3 separate regions of the Homo sapiens genome follow, and all the other regions are linked to region 3. The links come from fine-mapping of genetic effects on gene expression. A gene starts in region 3. Each other region holds a variant in brackets. All regions are shown on one strand. Distances are between the middles of the regions.

Region 1 (8,188 bases), 33 kb before region 3:
AAACTTATTGAGGATTTATAGTGTATGTGGATGTAATCATACATGATAATTGTGCTATATATAATGCACAATACATCATGATATATGATCATATCATTATATCACATAAAGGATAGGTGGGGGAATATTAAGCCTATATGATAGTAAAGTTTCCACATTTTGTGTAGGCTAAATGTCCCTATTTACTCTAAATTAGGTACCCTATTAACTCTAAATTAAGAGTAAAAAGTTATACACATTAACCCCCAGAGCAACCACTTTACCTGGGATTATAATCTCCTAAAAAGCAAGACCTTTGCTTTATTCACTTTTCATTCTGAATCACTAACCACAGAGTAGCAAGTCTAGTGAAACTGAATAGAAATAATGAAACAATATTTGTTTAGGTGTTTTGAATCAACTTTTTAAAACTGGAATTGCTCACAATCGAAGCATAATTCTATTCATAGCACAATGTTTAGCATATAGAAAAGACATGATAAATGCAATCATAATAAGTAGTAGTGTTCTTAATGATGTCTTTGGAACACAATAATGTCATGAGTCATTCTTTCTGAATCTTCAAAGGATAATCAATTTATATTTAAATATAATCAACTTATGTATAAGAGCATGTGTTTCGAGTGCCCAAACTTGGGCTTGAGTTTCAGTGATTACCTACATGACTTCTCAATTTATTTACATGTAAAGTGAGATGATGATTTTAAAAGCTTACTTTACAGACCTGTTTAGAAAATTAAATGAAATTTCATGTAAGTTGTTTAACATAGCACTTGGTACAAAGGAAGTGTTCAATTAATATTGGCTGCACTTATTGAAGGAAGCTTTAGGATTGATGATACTCAATACAAACTCTTTAAAAATGTGTAATCCATAGCTAATCATATATAAATCAACTCTGTACTAGTCAGAATATCTGATTAATCAGAATTTTCATTCCCAAACTTTGGGAGATCACTGTGTCATTTAACTCCACCATGTATGAAAGCCTCCACATTTTCAAACCATTAACAAATAAAAAACAAGAATGGTGCTACTATCGTATCAGATGAAATAACAGCAACATGGGTCAACAATTTCTTAGAAAACCCCATGGGACCTGATGTCCTTTGGAATTCAGAATGTCTTGGATCTAAGTAAGTTGTGAATTATCTCATGTAACAACCCCAAGGGGTATGGCAGTAGCTCTTAATGAAACGCATTAATACTTCTACCATCCTACATATGAATATTCATGCAAAGTGGGATAAGTGAAGTTTATAAGTTGTCACAGATCAGTTCCGGTCAGATCTTACCACTGAATGAGTTTGCTACAAGATGAACCAATTGTTTTCAGCTTTTCAATTTCAGAATTGCACATAAGGGATTGCAGACTTAAGAAAACAAACACTTATATTGCATTAATCATGAGCCAGGCATGTTCTAAATGCTTTACATATCAACATATTGATCCACAGCAAGCCTATCAGGTAGACATTATGATTATCCCCATGTTACAAATGAGAAAACTGAGGCACAAAAAGGTTAAGTAATTTACCCACAGTTGCATACTGAATAAGGTGTATAAAGAATGAGGATTCTGTTCTGGAGCTTATTCCTTAATCATCTTGCTATGTTGGTTCTTTGAAATCTAATTTATGTCCTAATTATCTGTAAAGTAATGTATTTAAAGGTCATCTTAAATAACAATTTCTAAATTCAGCAGGATATCAGTCAGCATCTGGCCCAAGGGACCCTTAAGACTGTAGAAAAATTTTCCTGCTCTGCAGGCACCCTTGCACTGTGAACAGAAATAGAAAATCTTACTCAAGTACCAATATGTACAATATTCACCAATATGTACCAATACCACATTTGTTTTTCTCTGCCATACTGGCAGTGAAAGAAATAGCAGGGGTGAGAAATTGGTGGGGGAGGCAAGCAGAATGGAAAATAACATGTGAAAAGCAATAGAATCCCAAGTGGGTAGCTTTGCTCCTTCCCATGTGTTCATTTTTACTTTTGGAAGAACAGGGTGGCAGGTTGTCTGGGCTTGACTAGAAGTCACATTGCATTGAGTCTCCTGGACCTCCTCTTGAGGAATTACATAAAAGTCACATTAGAATGCTGGTTATTGATTTAGAACATTTCTCACCTCTGATTCACTGAATGATTTGAATACAACTTGAAAAGCTTTACCAGAGTTTTCTGTATCTTAAATTCAACTACAAACATACAATGGCTTCTGTGATGTCTCTGTAGTGACTATAACAAATCATCATCTCTTCTTTGAAAACCAAGTGATCAGCACTTTCCAAATGTAATTTCTGTGTAGGTATATATTAACCATATTCCATTCCCATATCTACTGTTTAGCTGATTGCCTTTACAATATAGGACATTACAGTTAAAGGTACATTTTTAAAAATTAGATGTTTTCACTGCTAGTCAGAGACACAAAGTATTTATTGTGTCCTGTATCCCAGATATAGTCAAATCTAGACTATGCCTAAAAAGTTGAACATAATTTTAATTATATATCTAATTCCTGTTGGAAAACAATCTGCCTTATTTTATACTCTTGTTTTAGTATTCTCATTTCATGCCCTGGGCCCCCAGGTAATCACAACCTTAGCTGTTACATTTGAAAGACAAGTTATGTGAGATTAGATTTGATTCTGCTTGGTGAAAATGTTAGTTCACTGTAATATTGTATTTATGGTATCCAGAGATACATACATACAGAAGGTAAAGAAGTCTAAGAATCAGAGGGTACAAGAAACTGCTAATTATAAAACAATGTAAAACTAAGTTAGATGGATCCATCTTAAAAGATCTGGAAAACAAATGAGAATATAACAATAAGTGAACCACCTCCAGATCCCGGCTTGGCATACCATCAAGAAGTATTTTAAAAAATTGCTTAAGATCAAATGGACAAAAGTGGAAAAGGACAAAACTATACAGATGAAACTTTCAAATAACTCAGTAGCCCCTATTATCTCTCTCCCCAAGGGCAGAAGAGCCATTACTGCCGCTGTGGGAGAGTGAAATATTCTCCTCATTGCAGAATTGAACCAATCTCCCTCTTGTATGGGTGATCACAGCAAGGGTAAGTACACTAAGTGAATCAGGGAAAGAGATTGCCGGCAGGAATGTCTGCAGACAAGGCGTGAAAGAGCTCTTTTCTGGGTTTTATCAGGGCAATCACATTAAGGTAAGAGAAACTTTCAATCAACCAGGAAGAAAAGGTTATTATCCCAGAAGTCCTCTTTTTCACCTGGTACAATTCAACATTATGTGGTAAGAAGGAAACTAGCACTTGAACACCACAGTGGGCTAGGCACCTTGATGGGTATGTTGTTTGTGAACTCATCTGATGTTATAATAAGTTCTGTGATTGGATATCTGCTCTCATTATACTGATGAGACTAAAGCAAAGACTCCAGGTAACTCATCCACCGTCACTCTACTAGTAAGCAAGAAGATAGAATTCAAATACAGATCAGTGTAACTTCATATGTTCTTCCCACTGCTCTTGGGAAACTTTTGCCTTCCAGATTCCCTCCTTCTTTTCTTTCTTCTCAAAAATACAGACTCATTCACCTCTCTCTAATAAGAATCAGGAATTCTCCAATCTAGGACATCCTTGCTGCCCCTCAAAAAGAGACTTCTCTTCAATCGAATATTTTCCCTTGAACATCTTCAGGAAATGCCACCTACAAAGACACTTTGGATTGGCAAAGAGCAGAGTCAGGACAAAAAGACAAAACTCTTTAAAGATGTGATTTTCTGAAATGGAGGGAATGGACATTGTTTTTATTTGTAATATAAATGAATCTTGGTAGTTTGGGTTTAGATCCATTCTAGATCACCCCTCAAAGTGGTACCTGTGGACCCAGGGTTCAATCATGGCCAACAATGCCTAGACTATAGACTCTGCAGAGGATGCTGCTACACAAGGGTCTGTGGATGCATCTGGGGATGGGGGATGTGGAAGTGGACATTGAGCAATCCCCAAACCCTTTCCTTTACTTTCTTCATTGACCTTTGTCACATACCACACTTTACTGGAAATGTAAGGAAAAACAAAATTAGTGTGGGGCAAGAAATTTGAAACTATATATTAAATATGACTTTCCCAACAGTCCAGAGGTCAACCAGCTACAAGCCACAACAGAGCTTAATTTCACGTATGTTCCAATGTAGTTTGCACAATTCAGGGTATCGTCTTTGCAGTTACTAAAGCATGCGAGGGTCTGGAATCCAAGGATAAGTGCATGGACAGTGTTTACGCATATTTCATCCAGTTGGTAATGAGGGATGATGAAGTACTCTCATTACCGAATACTTCAGAGACCAGAAATTTTTCAGACCTTCAGATCTAGCATCTCTTCTGCTCCTCACCCAGATGACCCTTTCTGCCTTCTTTAACAGTAAATAACAGTCAATACATTTTTTTCATAAATTCTGTATGACTCAATTTTGTTAAGCTCTCAGCTTTTTGAGAATACGTGTGACTTCTATGTGCTGCCTAAATACACATTTTTTAAATTGTGCTTGTTATCTTAATTTATACCTCATTTTATAAAGGACACCTGGCAAGAGCGAAAGTCAATAGTAGACTTCTCCTGTACTCAGTACATAAAGGATTACAGTTTTCCCTAAGGCTGGGAGATGACGGAAG[A/G]TGGACCTTTAACGGTTAAACTTAGCACACAGTACTGATGAAAGGAGATATAAAAGCGAGAGATGAAGCTCTCAGGCCAATGAAATTGACTGCATCCTGAGATGGCATTAACTGTTAAAGAATGTTTACTGAACCTGTTTATTTTGTTGTGATTTTATGTTCATCAAGTAAGCTTCAGGTCATAATTGACATTTCATGTTCACTTATCTACACAGACAGAATGGACTGTTCATAGACTATAGTTCTCTGGTTAGTGGAACACTTCTATTTCCCATTAAAAATTAATGAATTGGCACTCAATTTTAGACATCAGCCTTGTGAGTTTGGTTTCCATGAATCTGTCACTGAGAAATGCATCCATTCTCATGAGTCGACAAAAACTTTAGGGCTTCAAGCCTAGACAAGCTCAGGGCCATATCTTTTGATAAATTCACCAAAGTAAAGCCCCCATGCATGGTTCTGCGGGGTATTTAGAGAGCCAGCTGCTGCCACCTCTCACTGACAGAGTCTGTCTTTGCATTCCTGCTTCTGAGCAATGGTGTTAACTATAGCAGCCCATTAATTTTTGGCATCCTACTCAGCCTTATGCACAGGAATCTATAACAAAAAGAACATATTCTTTACCTCTAATTGGGGAGGAAAATGCACTTTTGTTGTTTTCCCAGCCCACCTTGTGTCAGTTGTCACTTTTAGTGGGAAAAACTAAATTAAAGATGGGAAAGTCAGTAATCACCACCCTCCCTGAGCTACCAAGCACACCAAGCTAATACATAAAATAAAACACTTTAAAAAATACTCCAGACTTACAGACTTTTTCCAATTTATGATACATGTTGACTTTTGCTAGTTTTGATAAAGAAATACAAGATTATTTTCCTGTGCAATTTCCCTCGGTCTTGAACATCTGAAAGCAGACAGATTTACAAATCCATCATCAAGGTAGGATACTGTAAATACATTTTATTCATGTTTACTCATGTTATCTAGAGAAATGTTTGCTTTTCCTGCTGTTTCTGGGAAAAAGTGAGAGCTCTGCTTTACAGGACTACCACAAACAACAGTAATATAATTTCATAACAACCAACATAAAGAAGCACTTCTCTATCATTTTACAGATTATTTTGAATTCAATTAACTGATATTAATATTTCTTAAGTCCCTAATATGCACCTAGATCACCCCTCAAAGTGGTGATTGATGTTATAATAAGTTCTGTGATTGGATATCTTCTGCTCTCATTATACTGATGAGACTAAAGCAAATAATCCAGGTAACTCATCCACCATCACTCTACTAGTAAGCAAGAAGATGAAATTCAAATACAGATCTGCGTAACTTCATATGCTTGGGGGGAGGAATCCCGAAGTTTGTATTCATGAAAATGTTACATTTGAAGTAGGTTTTATGTGTTTATTTGAAATTATGTTGAAACAGAGACAGGTGGGGGTCTTCATTGGTTGTCTTATTGCTATCACAAAAATCCAGCTTATTTTCTAGAAAAATGAAATAAGATTCATAAGCCTCAGTTCTAACTATATGGTGGGCAAAAGAGAATTAAAATTTAACTCAAACATCTCAGCCACAGAAGTCTTTTGTGGTCCTAGTGGTTGTTAATAACCCTTGAAACTTATTAATCGAAGGACGGTATGCTTCTGTTGCTAGAAACTATGCAGCTTCACCATAAAGCCACCCTATTAAATTCATCAATAAAACCTTGGAGGAGGCTGAGGCAGGAAGATCGCATTAGGCCAGGAGTGGAGTTCATCCCACACACTGAATTTAGATGGCTTAGATATATTTTCTTTCTTTCTTCCTTTTTTCTTTTTCTTTCTTTCTTTTCTTTCTTTCTTTCTTTCTTTCTTTCTTTTCTTTCTTTTTCTTTCTTTCTTTCTTTTTCTTTCTTCCTTTTTCTTTCTTTCTTTCTCTCTCTGTCTCTTTCTTTCTTTCTTTCTTTCCTTTTCTCTTTCTTTCTTTCTTTCCTTTTCTTTCTTTCTTTCTTTCTGTCTTTCTCTCTTTCTTTTGGACAAGATCTCACTCTGTCACCCAAGCTGGAGTGCAGTATAGATCATGGCTCACTGCAGCCTCAGACTCCTGAATTTATGTGATCCTCCCACCTCAGCCTCCCAAAGTGCTGGGATTACAGGCATGAGCCACCATGCCCAGCCTGTATTTTTTTGTTGGCATCTTTGTTACCTTCTTTCTTTGGTGTAGCATTTTTAATCTCCCTTCTGGATCTCATCTCAACTTCTGTTTATCTAGCGTCTTTCTTTTTTTTAATTTTATTATTATTATACTTTAAGTTTTAGGGTACATGTGCACAACGTGCAGGTTTGTTACATATGTATACATGTGCCATGTTGGTGTGCTGCACCCATTAACTCGTCATTTAGCATTAGGTATATCTCCTAATGCTATCCCTCCCCGCTCTCCCCACCCCACAACAGACCCCAGTGTGTGATGTTCCCCTTCCTGTGTCCATGTGTTCTCACTGTTCAATTCCCACCTATGAGTGAGAACATGCGGTGTTTGGTTTTTTGACCTTGTGATAGTTTGCTGAGAATGATGGTTTCCAGTTTCATCCATGTCCCTACAAAGGACATGAACTCATCATTTATTATGGCTGCATAGTATTCCATGGTGTATATGTGCCACATTTTCTTAATCCAGTCTATCATTGTTGGACATTTAAGTTGGTTCCAAGTCTTTGCTATTGTGAATAGTGCCACTATAAACATACATGTGCATGTGTCTTTATAGCAGCATGATTTATAATCCTTTGGGTATATACCCAGTAATGGGATGGCTTATCCAGCGTCTTTCATAAAGTCTCTCAATAACTCCAAACTGAACTGTCTTCTCTAGTCTCTGTACTTTCTTGTCTAGTCTCTGTGACTTAATATACAGTAGACACCTGTCATTAGCCATTCTACTTCTTCATTGCACTCTAACCTCCTTTTAGGAAGTAATATCCCCTCTATGTGTATGATCAGAGTTGGAGATCACATTGGGGGTGTCTGCCTTGCGAAGTTCCCATCTCTAAGTACAGTCAGGAGGTGGCCACACGACCTAACCTTAGCCCATTGAATGCTCCTGTCCCATGCAGTGAATATGAGCAAGTGAGGCAAGAACAATATGAATGGTTGACGGTCACATACAATGACGTCAACATAACAGCAGAATCAACATAACAGCAGGCTGTTCCCACCATGCTATGGTAGCTCTATTTCAGCTTCTCTGCTCTATCCATTATCCACCCGAGTTCATTTTTATTTTATTTTATTTTTTTCTTGAGACAGGGTCTCAGTCTGTTGCCCAGGCTGGAGTGCAGTGGCATGATCATGGCTTACTGTAGCCTCGACCTGCCAGGCTCAGGTGATCCTCCCACCTCAGCCTCCTGAGTAATGGGGACCACAGACACGCACCACCACGCCTGGCTAATTTCTGTACTTTTTTTGTAGAGACTGGGTTTTGTCATGTTGCCCAGGCTAGTCTCAGCTCCCTGGTACAGCTCCCTGGTATCCT
Region 2 (8,155 bases), 78 kb before region 3:
TGCCGTGACTTGAGACTCAGCCACCCAGAGTGGAGCAGTGGTAGGTCAAGATGTCCAGACCAGACTGACCCTTCTCACAAGTTGAGCTTTTCAAAATTAGTTTCCATTGACATTTAGAGTGAAAATGCATTTGGGTAAAGATTACATTATGTGAAATCACACCCAATTAATGGAGCGTCATCTTCTCCCAACCAGCACCCAACCTCATTTCCCTTAAAATGTATTTTTGCACTTTTCATAGTAATAAGTACCCTGATTTGATTTTTCATGGAGGAGGGGAGGGAAGGAACTGTCTAATCTTAAAAATAGCCACCCTCTTCCTCTTAAATATGGGGTAGACAATCAAAAATGTTACTTATGAGAGTCAGTATCTTTCATTAGTTATTATTAGAATCTGTGTTCTGCTCAATGAGAAGTTTCATGATCTGAATGTTATTTTCTTAAAAGGTTACTACTGGATTGACCCTAACCAAGGATGCACTATGGATGCTATCAAAGTATACTGTGATTTCTCTACTGGCGAAACCTGTATCCGGGCCCAACCTGAAAACATCCCAGCCAAGAACTGGTATAGGAGCTCCAAGGACAAGAAACACGTCTGGCTAGGAGAAACTATCAATGCTGGCAGCCAGGTGAGGAATCCCACAAACACCTCTCCTTCTGCTAAATAATATTTTGGTAGGACTGTTTGTTAATTATCTGCATTTTAATCTCTGACAAAAATGGGCTTATTAAAAAAAGACCTGTTCCTTTCCTGGGTTCCAATTTTGTCCTAAATTGCACATTAGAAGATGGATTGATTGGACACATCCATGTAATTCAAAGTTATTATTCAAATTTGACTTAATTGGTAATCATTGAAAAAACTGACTAATGTCATTTAGTGTGAAGGAGCACTGGCCAGCTATATGCCACACTCATACATATGCATTTTCAGAATGTGAGCAGCTTTTCTGAATTTTTAATCAAACCTTTTCACCAACTTTACTGAATGCCTACTGGAATTCCATAAATTACAAAATGACAGAAAAAGAAAAATGTCAGAATTTCTACCTCCTCATTCTCTTATTCTAAAGAAGAAGCATATGCAAAAAGGATTAATTGAAACAGATAACTTTTTTAGATGACCTTGCCTCAGTCTAGTAGGTCTTATGTTCATCTAGGTAACTGATACTTCAAAGACAAGTGAATTAAGTTTTCTTTAAAAGTACCCTTTTCCTAAGCTTGGATCTGAGTCTACTCTTCCTGAGATCTTTTTTTTTCTTTTTTTTTTTTTTCATGTTTGACTCTTAGTATCTGAGTCCTTCTCCACTTAACTGGAATTTCATCCTATTTTCTGTAGTTTGAATATAATGTAGAAGGAGTGACTTCCAAGGAAATGGCTACCCAACTTGCCTTCATGCGCCTGCTGGCCAACTATGCCTCTCAGAACATCACCTACCACTGCAAGAACAGCATTGCATACATGGATGAGGAGACTGGCAACCTGAAAAAGGCTGTCATTCTACAGGGCTCTAATGATGTTGAACTTGTTGCTGAGGGCAACAGCAGGTTCACTTACACTGTTCTTGTAGATGGCTGCTCTGTAAGTAATAGTGAAATATGGGAATAGCTTTGGGAAGTGGGATGGAGGGGGTTCTAACTTAGACTGCCCCCAAGGGGGGGTCTAAAGGGGGGTTAAAAGAACAGAAGAATGAGAGAACTAACTTATTTCATAAGTAAATTCAGTTTTTGTATGTATTTTATATTTATTTATTTATACGTATTAATTTCGTACTTAAATTCAGATGATAAATTCAGAGTATTCTTATCAGATAGTGCCTTCTGAAATGCTGAAATGTATACTATGTCCATGCATTGTTTTTTCTTTAGCATGTTTTTTAAATGGTAATGTGTGCCCAGAACTTAAAATTTCTTGAGACTTCAGTGGCCTAAACTATAATTTATAGTTATGTGTATTTTATTTTACTTATTAGTATGGCCTACATTTAACTTTTAATGCTTTTTCTACAATATGCTATAAATATAAGAAAAATTAAAATTCACTAACAGCAAGACTACATACCCACCCAGGTCCCGCTCCCAAAGACACACATAGAGGGACATACACACAACAATCCTAAAAATGACTTTGTAGAGATAGGTCACTTGGAATGTGTGTTGAAATGTTGTTGGTTTTTTTGGTTTGTTTGTTTGTTTGTTTTTTGTTAGACTGATAGGGAGCCCCTCCCACTAAAGACACCCTTGATACTGTTATTTCAAGGATGAACTTATTTATCTGGGACAGACATCTTCAGAATGACACATGCCAAACAGTGGTTCTTATTAAATCAAAGGTTCAGATATTATCAGATTCAGAAATAGTGATGCTTTGTGTATCTATTTTCTTCTCTTTAAACAGAAAAAGACAAATGAATGGGGAAAGACAATCATTGAATACAAAACAAATAAGCCATCACGCCTGCCCTTCCTTGATATTGCACCTTTGGACATCGGTGGTGCTGACCAGGAATTCTTTGTGGACATTGGCCCAGTCTGTTTCAAATAAATGAACTCAATCTAAATTAAAAAAGAAAGAAATTTGAAAAAACTTTCTCTTTGCCATTTCTTCTTCTTCTTTTTTAACTGAAAGCTGAATCCTTCCATTTCTTCTGCACATCTACTTGCTTAAATTGTGGGCAAAAGAGAAAAAGAAGGATTGATCAGAGCATTGTGCAATACAGTTTCATTAACTCCTTCCCCCGCTCCCCCAAAAATTTGAATTTTTTTTTCAACACTCTTACACCTGTTATGGAAAATGTCAACCTTTGTAAGAAAACCAAAATAAAAATTGAAAAATAAAAACCATAAACATTTGCACCACTTGTGGCTTTTGAATATCTTCCACAGAGGGAAGTTTAAAACCCAAACTTCCAAAGGTTTAAACTACCTCAAAACACTTTCCCATGAGTGTGATCCACATTGTTAGGTGCTGACCTAGACAGAGATGAACTGAGGTCCTTGTTTTGTTTTGTTCATAATACAAAGGTGCTAATTAATAGTATTTCAGATACTTGAAGAATGTTGATGGTGCTAGAAGAATTTGAGAAGAAATACTCCTGTATTGAGTTGTATCGTGTGGTGTATTTTTTAAAAAATTTGATTTAGCATTCATATTTTCCATCTTATTCCCAATTAAAAGTATGCAGATTATTTGCCCAAATCTTCTTCAGATTCAGCATTTGTTCTTTGCCAGTCTCATTTTCATCTTCTTCCATGGTTCCACAGAAGCTTTGTTTCTTGGGCAAGCAGAAAAATTAAATTGTACCTATTTTGTATATGTGAGATGTTTAAATAAATTGTGAAAAAAATGAAATAAAGCATGTTTGGTTTTCCAAAAGAACATATTGAGTAAAATTCCTTGCTTCAATGCTCTTTGCAATATAAATATGCATCTCTACCAGCCATTAGACCAAGTGCCTCTGATTAGATAGAAATTATGCAAAAAGGGCAGTTTGGTGTGGTAGAAAGAGCAGAGAACGAGGACCCAGGAGAGCTGAACTCCAGTTCTGGCTCTGTTCCTTGTGGCTGAGTGACCTTGAAACTCTGAGCCTCTGCATTTCAGTTTCCATAGCTATAATATGAAAAAATTCCTTTTCAGCACTATTAAGCATTTGCCCTACTCAAAATATGTAATATTTAAGCAACATGGCATTTTTGACCTAATTTTACTATAACCAAAGGTCTATAGAAACTTGGTTTATTATATATTAAGCACTTTATAACAGTGGCTGAAAGTTGGTCTATGAGCAATTAATACTATTAACTAAAACAGTTTCAAATATTCAGTAAAAATGCCATACACTTAAATCTGAGGCAACTGAATACAATGCCTGTTAAGAGGTAATGTGTGTGCTGTCAATCAGGATAGACAGTTGTGGATAATAGTACCACGAACACCTACCTGCCAAATCAAGTTCATTTTCCTCCCCTGCACCTTTCAATAACATCTTTAATACACTTAAACATAGTAATGTGTCAAGTAAAATGTTAAGATTCATTTAGAGCTTATTTCCTGTTGCAGAACATAATTGTGATTGTAATATTTGCCTTGTGTTATAAGTCATCTCAAGATTCAATTAGTTTTAAAGGCAAAAGACTGAACATGGTAAAAATGTAATATTAACCTTAAAAAGTTAGCAAGGTCTCCTAATCAAAATGCAGATTCCTGGTCCTCATCTGCCAAATTCAGATTTAGTAAGAAATTGCTATTCTTACGCATCCTGTGAAATTCAGATGTGCACCAATTGAAGGACCACCTGATGAGGTTACTGCCATAGTCCTTTGTAGCTCTAATA[T/C]TCTGTGTCTGACAAGAAGGAATATATATATCTGACCAAACCATATATAAAGATAACTCCTGGGATCCGAATGCTGGTACTCTCTATAAATTAGTAATTAAAATGACCATGCAAACTTACATGATAAAACAGAAATCTCTGGATCAAATATGAACTATACCCTCAGACTTATAGCAAAAAAAAATAAAACGCATTTATTGAGTACCTGCTAGAGGCAAAAGCCATGCTAAATAATAATAATGACCTTTGTCAAACTGAATCTGAATTAGCAGATTTCCTAAGCCAATGCTCACTTAATAATCACTTAATCATCATCAGTGTGAGACAACTGAAAATAGTCAAATAAATAATGGTACACCTAATGGATTACAATGAGGAAACAAATTATGGTATATCCAGTAAACAATGAGGAAACAAATTACAGTATATCTAATAGATAACGATAGGATGAATAGTGAAATAAATTTTGGTATCCCAATAACATTTATAAGGATGATTTAACAAAAGAAAAACTTCTTAGAATAGAATTTTCAATCTTGAAAATCTAATATTCAAGAACACTGTCATTATAATTAGATATTTTAAATATACATGTAAAAAAATGCTGAGAGTAGGCACATTTGTATAGAAGTTTAAGGATGATTTTTAGGCCTAAAATTTTCAAATTTGCAACAATGTAGCTATATTACATTATTATTTACAACAAATTTACTCTTAAAATATTATGAAAGAAGCAGTCAAAAGTGAAAAGAATCTGGTTCAGGAGTAGCCATCTCCAGGGAAGGAGTGGTCAACCTCCCACCCACCTGTTTCCTGAAGAGAAGGACAAGCCTGGCCTAAGGGTCATCATCCACCATGGACCAGCCATCCTGAGAGAAGCTTGGGAGGGTGTACAAAGCTCTACCAGGCCACAGCATCTTCAGGGAGCTCAGGGAGCTTATAGTGCGGTTCCAGAGGCAGAATAAAATAATGTGTGAACAGAATTTTAAATTACATATCCTCTGAGGATAACAGAAGACACTATTAATTAATTAGAGGGAGTCTCGGGAAATTAACCTTTGTCTCACACAGTAACTGATATTTGGATTGAACTGGCCTCTCTTGATAGAGATCTCATTTCACCTTCAAGCTCTCTGGCTCAATCCTTCTTCTCTGGAAGTCACATATTAAAACAGCCTGGTACTTACCAAGCCAGGAGGTCCACTGTGAGTGTTCCCAGGGCCTAGACTCAAATGTGGACATAGAGCAATAGACTGAAGACTTGGCCCTTCCATGACGAGCCCACTCTTTAGAGGCTGATCACCAGGCCCAAAGCATACTCCTCACAACATTTCTTGACCCTTGGTGGAGTGAAGGTCAGCCACCTCTAACTTGTAGGAGTGTGAAAGGGAAGAAAATTGCACATGAAAGAGAGAAGAAGCAGGTAGCCAAGATCTAGGGAGGGGACATTAATCAAGTCTAGTAAAAAGGGTCATTTAAAATTCTAAAATCAATACAGCTAATGCATTGGCAAAGAGCAAAGATACCTGAGCAATGCTGAATACATTTATTATCTTTAATGCCAAAAGACTTTTTTATGCTATTCCACTTAATATCACTGTAAAGGAAGTTCAGAAATTGGATTATATATAAGAAAAGTTGGAAATGTCATTCTGGGTCAGAACAAAAATCCATCTAGATGAGTACTTTGCCTTTGACAGTGGCACCAGGGGAAATTTGGGAGAAAGAGCAGTTGGCACTTCTTGTGAAGCCAGCCTCAGAACTCCCATTTAATAACCCATTGTAAATCTTTTTTGTACATAGATGTATCTAAACCCTTCCAGAGTCCTCTATCTATTTTGAAATATGTTGGTATTACAGTACCAACAGGAGAGAGCTAGTGCTGAATTGTTAGCTCAGCTTCCTAACCCTCTGATCAAGTAGCTAAAATATGTTTTCTATCCTTGTGCCTGGATCAGCCAGGGATTCGACAACTCCATATCCTTAGGGAGCACTAGTAAGTCCAACAATGGGGCCATAGACAACCCATAATGAGCGACTTATCCCTGCTCTTCAGTGAAATGAGCACATAATTTGTGGTCAGCAGCCAAGGCTATGAGTATCAGCTCTGCCATTGACTAGCCCAGGGCCCTTGGGAAAGTCTCTTAAGTTTTTTGAGAATTTAGTTAACATGCCTGCTTTAGTTAACATGCCTGCTCTTAGAGATTGCCATTACCACACATATCATCTCACAGAACTGCTGGGGGTACCAAAACAGGCATGTGTGAAAGTGCTGAGTAAAGTATGCACAATAGACTTGTCATCACTAGGTCCAAAATTTCCTGGCCACTGGTGGTAGCCTCTTGATTTATTTTCTGATCACTGGCCCTCTAATTTAGGAAGAAGAGAGTGTAGAATTTACACTTAATTAGCACCACTCTCTAAAGTGGTAGTGTATCAATTTTGAGTTATGCCTCCTTATCAGTAAAAATTTGAGTTCTTACAACAAATTTACTTACTTATATATAAATGTTATGTATATATTATGGTGCTAGTATATGCAATATAAAACCTCTACAGAAAAAAAATCTGTAAAGACAGAAAATAAATACACATAGAAGGGTCCATAGTCCAGTGGATCATTCTGCACGCCCCTGGGATGCATGCACCACCCCCTTCCATTTTAGAGAGTATTGCACTAAACAAGGATGGTCTTCAGGGGAGGAGGAGCATCAATGAACTCCTGAAATCACATGTTAAATACACTTTGTGGGTATGTGCATTTTTCTTGGAAGAAAAGTCCACAAATTTCATCTGATATTCCTAGGGGTCCATGTCCCAATTAGACTTTATAAGCCACTGCACAAAAGAAGTATTATCCACATCGCTAAACCCTGGACTTTTCTGAACTATGACTTTCTCTTTTTTTTTTTTTTTTTTTTTTTTTTTTTGATGAAGTTATACTCTTGTTGCACAGGCTGGAGTGCAGTGGTGCGATCTTGGATCACTACAGCTTGAACTCCCAGGTTCAACCTACTCTACTACCTCATCCTCCCTAGTAGCTGGGATTACAGGCATGCACCACCATGCCCAGCTAATCTGATATTTTTAGTAGAGACAGGTTGTGCCACGTTGGTCAGGCTGGTCTCGAACTCCTGACCTCAGGTAATCCGCCCTTCTCGGCCTCCCAAAGTGCTGGGATTACAGGTGTGAGCCACTGCACCCGGCTTGAACTATGACTTTCATATCTCATCTTAGGTGTCTTACTCAGAACATGCTGCTTCTCCTACCCTAAGACCTGAGAGAACCAACCAGCACCAGTCCAAATGTAAATAATGGTTTGTCTTTTATTCTTCCACTTTTCTGGTATGAGTCCTCTGTCCTACGCTTTAACTAGGCTTGACATATACCTTATGACCTGTACTTTGTAACATAAAAATACACCAATCTTCAGAATCTTTTTAAAGAAGAGCAAACAAACTCAGTAATGGGGGACAATTAATTGAGCTATGCCTTTTAGGTAAAATGTGCTTGTATTAGTTTTTTTAATTTTGAAAAGTGATAGAGTTTAACCTAAAAATTATTGCAATTTCTGGCACTGTAAAATGTCTTGAGGACAATACTGTAATTGTTTTCCAGGGATCCTCAAATCACCTAATAGAACCAAATCTTTTCATCTGATTGCTCCAAAGCAAACCTATTATTCTGAGCTCCAGACATAGGATTAATTCTGGCCAAAATTAACAATCTTACTGGAATCTAGAAAGGTATCCTTAAAATTGAGATTCACCGTAAATTTAAAGACATTTTTAAGCAAAGCACACAATGCATTTTTACTA
Region 3 (8,188 bases):
GACTGGTCTTGAACTCCTGACCTCAAGTGATTCACCCATCTTGGCCTCCCAAAGAGCTGGGATTACAGGCTTGCACACCTGGCCAAAACCCTATACTTTAGATGAGTAGAAGGCAGAGTAGAAAGAAGATGAGTCAAAGATTAGCAGAAATGACTTGAAGGATAGTGTGCCAATGAACTAAAGGGAAAATTAAAAGGATAAACAAGGTTTAGAAGGAAAATAAAACTTGTTTTCCAACATATTGAGTCTGAGGTACTATGCGAGTCATTGAAGCTGTCCCTTAGGTATATGAAAATGAGAGGACCATGAGAAGCCAGGTTGCACGTGTGGATCAGGAGTGATAGTTGAGGCCAACTTACAATTTAGGTTTGCTAAGAAGAGAAGTAGGCAAATGAGAAACCTGAAAAGCGCTTTTAAAAAGGGGCTTTGAGAAAGGAAGAGGAATCTTCGGAGATGCATGAGAAAGGTAAGAGGAGAGATTTGAATAAAGCAAATATTTCAAGAAAGCTGCACAGCCAAGAAGGATAAAGCTAAGATAAATATGTTGAATTTGGTAATTTAGGATGTGGCCCTCATTTGAAAGAGTGGTTTAAGTAAGTAAAGTAGTAGGGACATAAGTTAGTTTTCATGTAAAGAACTGAAAAATAGTAAAAACAATTTTTTTAATGGGGAAAGTAACCACAAACTGTTCCTTCAGAAGTTTGGTGGTGAAAAAAGAGAGATTGTGTGGTGCATTAAGGAAGATAGGATGAATTTGGCAAACAATGAAGAGAGATAAATTAAAGGTAGAAATAAGGAAGGGGAACTTAGGAGACCAGATTCTCAATGAAATGATATTGGTATAATCATACACACAGGTGAGAGTGACAGTTTTGGGAAAGGGGAGGAGGAATTTTTCTTTGAATCAGAAGGGAAAAGATAAAGTGTAGCAGTTTGTTTTAGAGTAATACATAGGGCCGGCTTTGTGGCTCATGCCTGTAATCCCAGCACTTTGGGAGGCCGAGGCGTGTGGATCACCTAAGGTCAGGAGTTGGAGGCCAGCCTGGCCAGCACGGTAAAACCCCGTCTCTACTAAACATACAAAAATTAGCCAGGCGTGGTGGTGCACACCTGTAGTCCCAGCTACTCGGGAGACAGGCAGGAGAATCATTTGAACCTGGGAGGCAGAGGTTGCAGTGAGCCAAGATCACACCACTGCACTCTAGCTTGGGCGACAGAGTGAGACTCCATCTCAAAAAATAAAAATAAAAATAAAAATAATGCATAGGTTGAGAGAGTTTCTGTCAGATGGTTTCTGTCTCTCTCTTTTTAAAATATTATTAAGGTGTGAGGTAACATGCTGAGCATTAGTAAACATTCTGGATAGCTCAGGGGTCAGGAAATAAACGTGGAGCCACTAACTAGTTTTTAGCAGGAAATGACATTACGAGATTTTAATTTAAGAAAGTTCTGTCTGGTAAGAGGTATGGCAGAATGGCAGTAGGGTTGGATTTTCGAGTGACCTGAGAAAGACGAGTAAAAGGATAAGAAATGCAGGCAAGAAATCATCCCTTAACCAAGGTAACAGCAAGTGGATAGAGAGGGGGCAACACAGTTGAGAGTTATTTAGAAGAAAGCAAGGATGACTCAAACACTTGCTTGGACGGCTGGGTTAATGATGAAAACTTAGGCATAAAGGTTGAAAGTAGATAAAGGAGAAGGAAGGTGATGAGTTTGTTTAGGAAATGATATATATTAGGTACCTGAAGGATATCCTAGTAGGCAGATGGTTCTTACAGCATGAGGATAGATAAATATGGACTGACATATCAGGTGTGTGTGTGTGTGTGTGCGCGCGCGTGTGTATAAGGAAGGTGATCCCATGGCAGTGGTGGGACCACTAAATAATGACTAAGTGATCCTAAGGTCACTTAAAAACAGCAAGAAGTGGCTGAAAACAAAGTCTCCGCTCTGTTTTAGATGGATACCAAATAAGGAAGAATGGTCAACAATGTCAGGTGCCACAAAATGGTCCAGGAAGATAAGGAATATAAAGTGTCCCTTGGATTTAACAAGTAGTCATACCACACAGCCTTGGTGAAGAACAATGAAATGGCTGAAGAGAGAATGCTAATTGAGCCAGTGAAGGCAGAGAGTCAACACTGCTCTTTCTAGATGTTTGCCAGAGGAGGAAAGAGTTGATGAGGTAAACATGCAGGAACAGAGTCCATGGGTGTTTTTCATTAAAAAAAAATTTTTTTTGGAGGAAGGCAAACAGCAAGGTGATAGGGAGAATTGGAAGACACAGAAAAAGAATGATTTGCATGGGGATAACTGATGGAGGAATCAACACCCTCAAGAAAGGAGGATAAGAAAAGATTCAGAGCAGAGGTAGAGAGATTGGCCTTAAACTTGAGAGAAGAAAAAGGAGGTTCACAAGCTATTTACAGTATTTAAGAAAGCCTTCTGGAAATTGCAATTAATAGAATGTCAAGTTTCTTTACTTTTTGCAGGCATTAACTCAACCCTTTGGGTTAACACTGGTTATTGCATGCTGATCAGAAATTCTAATTTGCTGGTAATGACATCATAGAAATGTCTAGGATGTGATTGGCAGACCATATATTGTTGGCAGAGTTATCTGGTTTTTACAATACCCAATTCTTACAACATGTGATCAACCTCTGATCAGAATGACAGCCAAAATTAAAAGACTATTTGCAGGGAACAGTGCCTAAGTGTTTGTACACTTATTTAACTTTATTGCTTATTAGCATTACATCCATGACAGTGATGTATGTGATTTCATTTAAGTGACAAAATCTTTCAAGATATAAAGTCCATGGATGAAAACATAATAAAGAGTCCTTGGATGAAGAGAATGGGAATGAGTAGACAAGATCTCTACAGTCCCTTCATATCTAATATTCTATAATTTTAAGAGGGGCCTATAAGCACAAGTTCAGGAATGGCTAAATGGGAAAGTTGTAAAGAATACTTGACAACACCCCAACTAAACAATGACTCACTCTAAACAAGGCAAGGCAAGTAGAATGGCAAGCAATGTAAATAACCATTCCCATCTGGAAGGCAACAAGAAAAACCATTTAAAAAAGGTGGGGTGGGAGCGAGAGGAGAGTAGGGATAACAATGCTTTATTAAGGAAATGGAGTGCTGGCTTTATTGAGAATCACAAAACATTAACCAACGTTAGTAGCGGGGATGATTGTCATAAGCACATTAAGAAAAATTTTTTTTGGCTAGGCTTGGTGGCTCATGCCTGTAATCCCAGCACTTTGGGAGGCCGAGATGGGCAGATCATTTGAGGTCAGGAGTTCGAGACCAGCCTGACCAAAATGGTGAAACCCCCGTCTCTATTAAAATACAAAAATTAAACGGGTGTGGTGGCGGGCGCCTGCAATCTCTGCTACTCGGCAGGCTCAGGCAGGACAACCATTTGAACCCAGGAGGGGGAGGCTGCAGTGAGCGAAGATCACGCCACTGCACTAGAGCTTGGGCGACAGGGTGAGACTCCCTCTCAAAAAAAACGAATTTTTTTGGCACATCGACCTAGCCAAACTTGCGTAAATACAAGTGAGAGTCAGACTCTTTTCTCATCAACACCTACACTAAGTTAGGCTCCTTCTGTACCTTCCATTCGGAACTTTGGTGTACTTTCGCCCACCAGAACTGGGCAAACTGAGGACATTAAAAAAACGGTTTAAGAGAAACTGGCCAGAGCGGTGAGTTAAGTGTTAAGACTGGTTTCACTCCTGGGTTGGATGCCAGCAATCCATCGGCCAGCACCATCAACTGGATCCATCAATCCAATCTGGCCAGCACCCAGGGGCAGCCAGACTGACCAGCCAGGCCACGGATAGCCAGACAATAAACGACCTTAGGGTGTCCTTCGCATCCCGCTGGGCGGGTTCTGGCAGTAGAAGGCTGAGAAAGGGGAGTGTTGGGGAAGGAAGGAATGGGACGATGTGTACTTTTCTCCCGGAACTGTAGTTCTATTGCCCCAACCTGGGCTCAGGTAGCGGCCAGTAAACTAGGAGACAGCCCTAAGGCTCGCGTCCGGGCCAGGCGGGTACCCCTAGTACTCTCTCCCCACACCCCCATGGCTCTGCCGCAGCCGCCGCCGCCCGCCGGGGCGCGTGACCCGGTGACCCCGGAGCACTGGGCATCCGGACCCCCCTCGCAGGCGCAGCCGCTATTAAGGCAGGAGGCTAAAGAGGAGGAGGAAGGGGAGGAGACAGGCGTCCAGGGCGCCTGGGGAACCGGCACGGCGGAGCAGCGGCGGCGGGGCTGGGGGGAGGCCGCCGAGTCGGCCGCGGCCGAGGAGGGGCAGGCGGAGGTCGGGGGCGCCGCGGCCGCGGGGTCAGGTTCCCCGGCGGGAGGCGCAGGTGGCGGCCTGGGGAGCTGGCGGCCGCTCCTCGCCTGGCTGCAGCGGCGGCAGCCCCAGTGCTGCCCCTGTGCGGCGCCCCTTTCCCGCTCCGCCGCGCACTGTTGTCATGGAGGAACCAAGATGGCGGCTCTGGCCTACAACCTGGGCAAGCGGGAGATCAACCACTACTTCAGCGTGAGGAGCGCCAAGGTGCTGGCGCTGGTGGCCGTGCTGCTGCTCGCAGCGTGCCACCTCGCCTCCCGCCGCTACCGAGGTGAGCGGGCCCTCCCCTCTGCCCGGGCAGGCCGTGGGGGAGGCGGCGACGCGGCGGCTGGAGGCCGCCCCCATCGCCCAACACACGCCCACGCGGCCTTCCGCCGGCCCGGCCCGCGGGGGAGGCGGTTCCCCCAGGTGTCCCCAGCAGCGGCCGGCGCCCGAGGCCAACTGAGTGGACCCCAGTGGGGGCCACCAAAGGACAATGGCTGGTGGTTCTGGGCGCCCCGAGCCGCCCGCGCTGGGGTCGGGGGCGCCAACCCTGGACCTGGCCAAAAGTGCTGCTGAGGTCCGGCTCCTGAGCGGTCTGGGTTCGGGGAGACGCTCCAGATCAGGGGCTCGCGTGCAGGAAGTCGGACAGGCGGTCCTTGGGGGCAGCCCGGGGCGCATGAAGCCCAAGGCCGCCCTGCAAGGGGCACCGCTGCCAGCAGTGGGGTCGCAGGTCCTGCCTCTTAAGGGTCCGGCTCCTTAGCCTTTGTTTAATTTTGCCTCTGCCCTGTAACACCCAGTCTGGGCTGTTGGACAGCGGCAAGGGCCGCCCCCATTTTCCTTTGCCAAAAGGGCGACAGCTGGCAAAAGATGCCTGTGGCCAAATGGAAGAGGTGCCACCCAGCTTTTGTGATGCAGAAACGTTTAAAGGCTTCGGAGTGCACACTTTTTACAAAGTTAAGGCACCAGAGCAGATTTTTGGAAGGAAGTTGTGGGTTGACAGGCGTAAAGGTGGGCAGTTGAAAGCAAGTTGTAAGCACTTTGAAAGCAGGCCTTGGCCATGGGTTTTGAAATTGGTGTAAAGGGGAAAAGGAAATATGACCTGATTTGAGAATGAATTATCTTTCAGTAATCAAGGGATATTTACTTCTCCTTGCTGATTGATTGTTTTTTTTCCTTTGTAAAAATGTCACTGGGAGAGAGGCTGACAGGCAGAGGGAAATTAATAATGATAGGATCTTTTATTTTTGGCTCTTAATACTATCAAAGCCATTATCTGGCCAGCTCTTGGTGACTGTGAGATTAATCAGTCAAGATGTAATGTGTAATGGACAGGTGCAAATTAGCGCTGTGCCCGTTTAAATTTACACCTACTTTGGCAAAATATCCATAAACGGGTTGTTGGAGTCTGCGCTGTATTCTCATCCCAGGAGATCTTTCAATTTTGGTCAGTTTTGCTGCTTTATTTCTTCCAACTCTTGAGAATTAAAAATATTGTACTCTAGAGCCATACTGGGTGAACAGCTTTTAGTATACTAAATTGATTTTAAAAATTAGATTCTTTATAACCTTTTGGCCTCTCTCCAGCTCTCTCCAGATCACAGCCATACGACCTTGCAAGGCCTTGGTTTATCTACAATCATGTAAAACTAGCAATGTTGATGCATTGATTTGTGGTGGTTTTGAGGAAATATTTCTTTTAACTACTATTAATCATTTTATGCCAATTTGGTATAAAAGAACAGTAATTTAATTCAATTTATGTAATGGTAGTAGAGAGAAATTTTATAACTACAGTACTATTGTCCTAAGATAAATAAACATCTAGTCCCCTTCCTTTTATTTTTTTGTGCTTTTTATCTTTTGATAACCTTGGACTACTATTATTTTTAGATTATAGATTTCATCTTATCAAGATCTGTCATCAGCAGGGAGAATAGAATGTCAGATGGGGACTTATGAGTCAGTGTAGCAATCTGGGATTGTTTATAAAGCCTTCTCCAGAAGTAAGTCATCAGTTTCCATAGGTACTTCAGTGCCTTGAGTGTGAAGCATACACCTGGTGAGTGTACTTGCCCAGACTGAATGTCAAGAATTTGAGCTGAAGACTGGGAAAAATAAACATCTTACCAGGAATATCCTCATGCTTTGGCAGTATCAAACTGAGTCAGGTGCAATGCCCTTCACACAAAGATAATCATACATTTGACTCACATTATAACTCTTTAGGACAGAGGTGGCCAATCTTTTGGCTTCCGTGGGCCCCATTGGAAGAAGAAGAACTGTCTTTGGGCCACACATAATATTAACACTCATGATAGCTGATGAGCTTAAAAAAAATTGCAAAAAATCTCGTATCATTTAAAGAAGGTTTACGAATTTGGGCTGCATTCAAAGCCATCCTGGGCCTCCAGCAGCCCAGGCCATGGCTTGGAAAATCTTGCTTTAGAATAAGAAAGGATCTTACATTAGATGAAGGAGATTAGGCTGTGTATTTGGATTTTGAATGTGTGAGTATGAGTGTGCTGAGGCAAGGTAGAGTGAATGCAGTTTGGATATACATATTCAGTATCTCTTGCTTTACAAACTACCGAAAGTAAAGGAAAGAATTACCCACTACAGAAAGTAAAGCTTGGCGAATACTGTGTGCTAACGTTGAGCACTTATATGTCAGGGACTGTTCTACTAAAGGTTTTACATGTTTTAACTCATTTTGTCTTTATAACCATTCTATGAGGTAGATACAATTACCATATTTCACTCCTCTCCACTATTTTTAACATCTTTGTAATCAGGGTGAGTCTTTAAAACTTTGATTGCATGTCAAAGTTTAATTGGTAACATTTTTTTCTTACTGTGACATAAAATAATCATGTGTCTAATAATCAGTGGTCTTAGATTCAGTGAATTACAGTATTATTTCCATTTTAAATATGAAGCATGACAGATTAAATTGCCTAAGGATACACAGTGACTGAGCTAGGATTTAGATCCCAGTTAGTCTGTCTCATGCCTTATGTTACAGTCTGTCTTTCTCAGAACTTCTTAGACAGTGGGGAGTATAGAAGATAGAGGGAGAAAGCATTTTCCAGGGAAGCATGGGTTAAACAACTTAGAAACAGTAATTCAGGCCGGGCGCAGTGGCTCACGCCTATAATCCCAGCACTTTGGGAGGCTGAGGCGGGTGGATCACCTGAGGTCAGGAGTTCAAGACCAGCGTGGCCAACATGGTGAAACCTCTTCTTCTTCAATTAGCTGGGCGTGGTGGCGGGCACCTGAATCCCAGCTGCTCAGGAGGCTGAGGCAGGGAGAATCACTTGAACCCAGGAGGCAGAGGTTGCAGTGAGCCAAGATCGCATCCCAAAAAAAAAAAAAAAAAAAATCAACTTTATTGTACCAGCTAAGAGTTTTTCTATTTTTTTTTCCAGTCAGGAGGTAATTTTCTAAAAGTTGTTTGTGTAAAGCTTCAAAATCTGACCTGAGCCTACTTTTTGTTACCTATGTTTTTTCCTTATTTTCCCCAAATTCCAGGTTCACAATCTAAACGTGCTTTGCCCGTTTATACGTCTCACAGTTATTTGATTTTCTCTGCCTGCAGTGACTTCTCTCTTGAAAGAAAATATAGGTTTTTCCTTCAAGGCCTGGTTCAAATGTCACACCCACAGCAGTAGGAATTAGCAGTTCAGTTCTGCCAGCAACTTACACATACTTATTGTGTTGTATTGTAATAATTGGTATCTGCCTACCCACACAAACTGTTGAGCTTCCAAGAGTATCTTACTCATCTTTAAACCTTTAAATCATCAGAGCCTAACACACAATAGGAAATCCTTAAATAAC

Alleles and levels. Alleles are on the strand shown, and positions count from the first base shown. SD is a standard deviation of normalised expression in the study named.
In carriers of allele G in region 1, the expression in breast of the gene that starts at base 4,232 in region 3 tends to be lower than with A alone (small effect, 0.20 SD a copy in GTEx).
For the expression in transverse colon of the gene that starts at base 4,232 in region 3, allele T in region 2 goes with a higher level than allele C (small effect, 0.29 SD a copy in GTEx).

What was found. PIP is the estimated chance that this variant, and not a neighbour inherited with it, causes the effect.
Region 1: its variant is fine-mapped to the expression of CASD1 in breast (GTEx, PIP 0.99).
Region 2: its variant is fine-mapped to the expression of CASD1 in transverse colon (GTEx, PIP 0.92).

What each region holds. Positions count from the first base shown.
Region 1 is chr7:94,472,425-94,480,612 of GRCh38, forward strand. No RefSeq gene overlaps it. Among named protein-coding and RNA genes, the nearest start is that of CASD1, 33 kb to the right of the region's middle. The variant A/G (reference allele first, on the strand shown) is at 4,667.
Region 2 is chr7:94,427,846-94,436,000 of GRCh38, forward strand. It overlaps COL1A2 (collagen type I alpha 2 chain), which reads left to right. Exons shown (of 52, transcript NM_000089.4): 49 at 1-40; 50 at 448-632; 51 at 1,343-1,585; 52 at 2,402-3,382. The coding sequence ends at 2,548. Among named protein-coding and RNA genes, the nearest start is that of COL1A2, 37 kb to the left of the region's middle. The variant T/C (reference allele first, on the strand shown) is at 4,338.
Region 3 is chr7:94,505,578-94,513,765 of GRCh38, forward strand. It overlaps CASD1 (CAS1 domain sialic acid O acetyltransferase 1), which reads left to right and starts at 4,232. Exons shown (of 18, transcript NM_022900.5): 1 at 4,232-4,640. The coding sequence starts at 4,508. RefSeq lists enhancers at 3,517-4,505, 4,506-5,492 and silencers at 4,026-4,245, 4,286-4,435, 4,536-4,895.